2 linked regions of the Homo sapiens genome follow. The protein of the gene in region 2 purifies or fractionates together with the protein of the main gene of each other region. This does not show direct contact. Each region holds a gene or a part of one and is shown on either strand. Other genes may lie near its edges.

What was found. The genes of interacting proteins can lie anywhere in the genome.
Region 1: the proteins of ETS2 (region 2) and COP1 purify together in Homo sapiens (affinity purification with western blotting; 3 studies listed by BioGRID and IntAct, with this or other methods). This does not show direct contact.

The regions. Positions count from the first base shown.
Region 1 is NC_000001.11:175,987,287-175,990,786, forward strand, and holds part of COP1 (E3 ubiquitin-protein ligase COP1), read right to left. Parts: intron 2,194-3,500; coding exon 2,076-2,193; intron 1,127-2,075; coding exon 1,002-1,126; intron 1-1,001. UniProt on the Homo sapiens protein: E3 ubiquitin-protein ligase that mediates ubiquitination and subsequent proteasomal degradation of target proteins.
Region 2 is NC_000021.9:38,808,929-38,812,428, reverse strand, and holds part of ETS2 (protein C-ets-2), read right to left. Parts: exon of another isoform or gene 2,633-3,500; intron 2,395-2,632; coding exon 2,323-2,394; intron 1-2,322. UniProt on the Homo sapiens protein: Transcription factor activating transcription. Binds specifically the DNA GGAA/T core motif (Ets-binding site or EBS) in gene promoters and stimulates transcription.

The DNA.
Region 1 (3,500 bases), on a different chromosome or scaffold from region 2:
CTTTACTAATCTAAAGAAACAATCAGTGTTAAATGATACAACAATACTGATAATTCTAAGGCTAAAATTACCCTATAAAATCATTTATAGAGGTTGGTACAAAAGTAATTGTGGGTTTTGTCATTACTTTTAATTACTTTTGCACCAGCCTAATAAGTCTATAGTAGAACCAGAAATATATTATAAGAATCTTAAATTACATTTAGGAAGATTTCCATTTAGAGAGGTAAAAGAAAGTGGCAACACTTACACAGGCAGATTTTCATAGCCTACATAATTTATTTCCATTTCTCAGTATAGGAATTATTCTATTAATGGTCTATGAACTGTATTTTTATTTTTGAGCCATCTATTAAAGATAGAATAATTGTTCCAGATATTTGCTTTGGCAGTCTCATACATATGTGGAGAAAGTCAACTTTGCTGAACAAAGGCCAAGTCATTTAAAAGTATGATCAAAGCTCATCTATTCAGGCATTAGATGTATCAGAGCATTTGAATAATATCAAATTTGATTTTTCTATTTCTTATTTAAATTTGTATAAATTATCAACAATAAAAGCCATAGAATAACAGATCAATGCTATGCAAACAGATTACTTCATGAAGAGAACAGCAGATAGGGGAAAATGAATATCAAGCTTAAGAAGACACATAATGTCTCCAAAATTGGAAATATTACTAACAGAACTTAACCTTTTCTGTCTTCTACACAATATCTAAAGAATTATGTTATAATGGAGAACAACTATAAAACAGTTAAAAATCAGGTGTTCAGGTATTTGAGGTGTTCAGGGTTTCTACACAATAAAAAAGGGAAGGACTAATGCTCTTCTAGTACAACACAAGGAAAATCAGTAGTGCTGGGGCATCATGTCTATTATACTATCTTCTGAGTGCACAGACCATTTCTTGACTTAGTATTTATTCTATTTCCACTGAGTTCAATTTCAATAACAAACACCTGTTAAAAAGTTCCTGGAAACGATGGTTTCACTTACCACAAGCTATATAATCTCCATTGGAAGCCAGGCCTACAAAGTTTTTTTCATTGATATGACCCTTGAAGGAACGTAGGCAGTATGGTTTCCCTACATTCCACAGTTTTAGCTGACTGTCTGTTGAGCTGAGGAAAAGTACAAAGAGTAAGAACTTACTTAAAATTTCTTGGCACGAAACTCATCACTACTAATTAGAGGCAATGCAGTTTGCTGGTTAAGAATGCAGGCTCTGGAGCCAGACTGAGTTAGCACGTTCATCTGTCGGCCAGGCGTGGTGGCTCACGCTTGTATTCCAAGCAATTTGGTAGGCCGAGGCAGGTGGACCACCTGAGGTCTGGAGTTCGAGACCAGCCTGGCCAACATAGCAAAACACCGTCTCTACTAAAAATACAAAAATTAGTCGGGCGTGGTAGCACGTGCCTGTAGTCCCAGCTACTTGGGAGGCTGAGGCAGGAGAATCACTTGAACCTGGGGGGCAGATGCTGCAGTGAGCGGAGATCACACCACTGCACTCCAGCCTGGGTGACAGAGCGAGACTCTGTGCCAAAAAAAAAAAGTTTTCTTTTCAACATATTTAAAGTCACCATGAAATCACAGATAAATGACCATGTCAGTGTAAAAGCCAACCAAGTAATATTTAAAACCAAAAATAATTCTACTACTATACTGCAAGTAGATAAAATACACAGTAACACATGAGTTGACTTTAATAAATAAAATACTTCTCATTCTATTGCATCAACTATGTTGTTTATCTCTTCTTTAGAAGCAATAGCTAAAATCTAATCTGAAGTTCAAATGCAATTAAACATAGGAGGATGAGATAAGGGGGGAGGGTATATAAAAAACTAGTATCTTCAGGATTTTACCCACAATTCACATATAAAAGTGCACAATACAGACCAGAAACCACACTACTTTAATTGGACAAGATTAAAAAAAAAATCTACTATTTAAGAAAAAGTACATATACTCCAATATTATAGTTTACATACACCCTCAGTGACATTACAAGCTGGTAGGTAAGTACAGAGCTCTGTATTAAGCTCAACCTCTGAGGAGAGTAATACTCACGCAGAGACAATTTCCTCACCACTCACAAACTTTGCATAAGAGACTGCTTTACGGTGTCCTTTGAATACCATGATTGGCTGTTTAGTGTTACGAAGATCATAGTAGTGGACACAGTGATCTAAAACAAAACAAAATTAGATAAATGTAGTAAATGCAGAAATGGAAAGCAAAGTTAATTTTAACTGGTTTTTGGTTTTTTCATTAAAAGTTTCACATATGATGTCTAATCTCTAACAGCCAGAAAACAAAGGAAAAGGAATCCTTTTCAAATATAAGATTGGCTCTAGAAAGAGAGTATTAAGGGGTCAAAATAACTGGAAACTTAAAAATCAATCTTTGTTTTAATGATGTCATGAAAAAAATGTTAATATAAACATTATGGGACATCTGGATAAACATAATGCTATATAATCTTATTTCCCATATTTGTTTTAAAAAACCATTATTTAGATATATTTTGCATATAATAAAATACACACACTAAAAATATTGTATGCAATTCAACGATCTTTACTAAATTTAACCAGCAGTTCAACTATTACCATAAATCAGTTTTAGAGTATTTCTGCACTCCGATAAGATCACTCATTTGGCATCCACCATCACAGGCAGTCTCTATTCCTGTCTGTCTCTATCACTAATTTCTACTCTAACCTTTATTATTTCCTTCCTTCTGCTTGTCTTCAGTTAGCTTTGTTATTCTTTTTAAAGACAGACACTTAAGGATACACAATTCTCTATCAACACTGCTTTGGCTGATACCACAAATTGTGATATGATGTGTTTCCATTTTCATTCAGTTTAAAATCCTTTTACATTTCCTTTGTTATTTCTTCTTTGACTAATGGTTATTTAGTAATGTGTCATGTAATTTCCAAATACTTGCAGATGTCTCAAAGTAACTATTGTTGATTTTTAATTTAATTCCATTTTGGTCAGAAAACTGTTTTGTATGTCTTCAATCATTTTAAATTTATTGACAGAAAACTGTTTTGTATGTCTTCAAGCATTTTAAATTTATTGACTTATTTTTAGTCTTAAATATGGTGTCCCCTGGAGACTGTTACTAACACTTGCTTGAGAAGAATGTGCATGCTTCTACTGTTGGCTGAAGTGGTCTTTGGATGTCTGTTATGTCAGATTGACAATGTTATTCAAGTCTTCTAAAACTCTGCCAATTTTCTGTCCAGTTTTTCTATGAAATATCAAAAGTGGAGTATTTTTCAACAACTTCAGTCAAAATATCTGTTTTTCCCTTAAATATCACAGATTTTCTTTTCATATATCTACAAAAAGTTTGTTTTGAGGTGTGTTGATAATTGATGTATCTTTTCACTATTGATTCTTTTACCATTATAAAATGTCTTTGTTTCTAGTACTGATTTCTACTCTAAGTATATTCTGTTCGACCTAAATATAGCCATT
Region 2 (3,500 bases):
TTAAGTTAATATATTAAATACACAAATCTGAAAATAACAGAATCTTACAATGGTGTCGAGAGGAGCCTCAGAGACCCCTTTACCAAACACCTGACCCTCCTGTTACATTGAGAAAAATTCAACTAGGCTGTGTGTGTAAGAAAAATGACCCTTGACAAGGCCGTCTGAGCACAATGCAGTTAAAAGGCAAATGACCCGATAAACACTGAAAAATCAAACAATGAAATACACTACTTTATCTTTGGAAGCATTTATTTTGAAATGTTTGCCATGAAACAATTTAACTGAAACTAGAGATGCTTTTCCACATCAATTCCAATGGTTTGGAAAATAGTAATACATGACAAAATTCCTTAACGTTTCATTTTATAACAAGTAAAGTGTCTTAAAAATGAACCCCCTCCCCGCCCCCAGGCCAGGCGGGGTGGCTTATGCCTGTAACCCCAGTGCTTTATGAGGTTGAGGCCAGAGGATCACTTGAGCCCAGGAGTTCAAGTCTGCGGTGAACTACGATCAAGCCACTGTACTCCCGCCTGGGCAACAGAGAAGGACCCTGTTGCTTAAAACCAAAAACGAAAAAACAAATAAAACAAAACAAAAAAAACCCAAATCACCTACTAAGGGGAAAGATTTCCAAAGGAAATAGGTTTAAAGTTAAACTAAACTATCTGCAGAAAAGAAGAGACACACAGAAAGATAAAACCTTACACTAACTCGATTTCTGAGCATCTTACATAACATTTATGAAAGAAATACCTTTTAATGTAAGACTCATTTGAAAGTAACCGATAATATCTGGATTCATCATCGCCTAAATTGTTGAGGAACACGTGAAGAAAGACTATATTTTTCCAACATAAGCTGGAAATCCCATGTTATGTGTAATACAATGACCCATCTGTTGAGTCATCAATAAGAAAATGTGTAACACATTTACAAATAAAATCGGTTACCCGCTTTCTTTTTAGAAATGCAGAACAATGAATGACGCATTACAAAAGAGGGCAGGCAGAGGCTGGAGCCCAGCCCAAAAAAATCCAAGTCAATGATGACCAACTGCCTGAGATCTACGAGGAAAACCGATCAATCAGGCAAGTGCAAATTACTCATCTGGATTTACAAACTACTTTAGAGCAGAGCTAATTTTGGTGAAACCTCCAATAAACTTTTAAAGTTCCCACAAGCATTGCCCAGGTGACTAAGAAATGCCTTTCCTAACCGTAAATTCTTTTTTTTTTTTTTTAAAGCCAGGAAGCCAAAAGACAATACAAATCTGTGCTTCCTATTTCAACACATCAATTTCAGCAACGACTGCTTCTTTTCAGAAACCGCATAAGCATCGTCAAATTATTTGAATTAATAGAAGGATTTTTCTAAGGGGTGTGGTTTCAACTTAATACCATGATTTCTTGTACCACTTCTGCCATGCTTAAAATGTCCGGCCAAATCAAACAAGCAGACTCACTAGGCTGAAGTTTGATGACCTTTAGAATACTGCAGAAAGGACTGTGCTGAGTTTTGCCTCTTTGGGTCATATCAGACAAATAACCTCAATAATGATATACAAAGGAAAATGTAATATGCCAGAGACGTACATCATCATTATGCAAGACGCTAAACTTTGAGGAGGCCAATTTTAAAATCATGCTTCTGAAACATGTTTACTACATAATACTGAAAACAATCAAATCTTGCTGTCATATTTGGAGAAGACAAGTGGGAGATTACCAGTTTGTGCTACTAAAGAATGTTCCCAAAAGGAATGATGATAGAAGCTACATAAAATGTTTATGCAGCAGAGAGGGCGCTTTCATTTTTCATCTGGTTTTTGGTTTAACATAAGTAGGCCTGCTTGTTCTCTGAGCCAGTAACAGGCTACCTACAATTCCACGGGCGCTGCCCTTTCTGATAGGAGCTGTAGCGGTTGGGTCTGTCTGCCTCTTCTCTCTCATTTCAGTTCTTAAACAGCTTCCCATCAACCAAGGAAACTCCTGGGTAGACAGAAAAGGCAGTAGAGACAGCCTCTCCAGCTGTTTTATTGGGAGTTATAGGATTTTCACCTGGAAGGAGCCTCAGAAAACAAGCTATAAAGGCCTTTGGTTTCATATCGTGGAGGAGAAGAACAACACACATCAAGATACCCATTCTGCAGACCAGAAAACTGAGGACCAGAGCAAGTAAGCAAATAGTCTATAGTCACATGGCCAATAAATTAAGAAGCTAGGGCTACAACCAGTTTTCTGGGACCCAGGCCTTTTTTTTCTTTCCTCCTAGAGATCGAGTTTTCCAATTAAAAAAAAAAATTAAGACTTGCCCACTCACCTTGAGTGTCCCTCTGTAACTGTTAGCCACAGGGGCTACCTGGTCCATATTCTTGATTCCGAAATCATTCATCTTAAAAAAGAAAAAAAAAAAGTCAAAGAGGCAAAAGATTAAGTACACTAAACTCATCATTGGTGGCATCAAGACTTGATCCTGGCTGAGTTCTACAGCTAACAGGTAATTCAAAAGTGAATGCAGGGAATTCTTGTTTAAATGGCTGTCCTCCCAAAGGTCTCAAGAGGAAAGCATTTCTCAGTATCACAATGGGATATGCTGTTTCAGTGATTGAATAATAATGCTGATTCCTCACTGAATTCCACTTAGATGTCACAGAAAAAGTCACTTGCTGGCTGGCTGGTCAGAGCCTCCTTGCTGGGTTAGCAGGGCAAGAGGGCCTGGGTCAGGCTTTTCATTCACATTTCCATGGCCAGCTTAGGTGAGTGCTTGGGTGGGTACAGTGGGGCAGTGGGCCGCCTCCTGTCTGCTCTGGACACAATCAGCTTAACCTGAGAGCTTCAGGACAGCTGCAGGGGTCATTTCTAGAGACAGGAAAGGAGTCCAGGAAGCCCCCTCTCTTCCCTTCCACTCTCCAGGCTGTAAGAAAGCACACACCCAGGGAAGGGATCAAAGGGAGAACTGAAGACCAAACCCCCTTACATGGTCCCAGATCTTCCTGCTTTGAATACAGAGCTCAAAATATTTCTGCTTTGTGTGTTGCTTGGCTGTGCACTTCTTCAAGAGGAACTGATTCCAAGCACGGATCTGCCTTACTTCCTCTGACTGAGTCTTAATCTTCTACTAGGCCTGGGCTAAGCAATATGGTACCCACTTGCCATGTGTGGCTACAGAGCTCTCAACCAGTGGCTAGTACAAATCCACACATACACACTAGCTCTCAAAGACTTAGTGGAAAAAAGAAAAAAGCTCAATAATTTTTATACATACATAATATTTCGAATATATTAGGTTAATTTGAAATACACTGAAATCAATTTCACCGGCTTTATTGTTTTTAACATGGCTATTACAATGAGGCTTGTAATTGGACAATGACATAATAGGCTGAAAATTTATTTGGAGCTCTAAAATGTAATTGTTCAGCCAGGTAAGTTACATATCAGTAAGAAAGATACTTAGATAATAGAGTAACTAAAACTCATTTTCAGAGACCTTGGGTT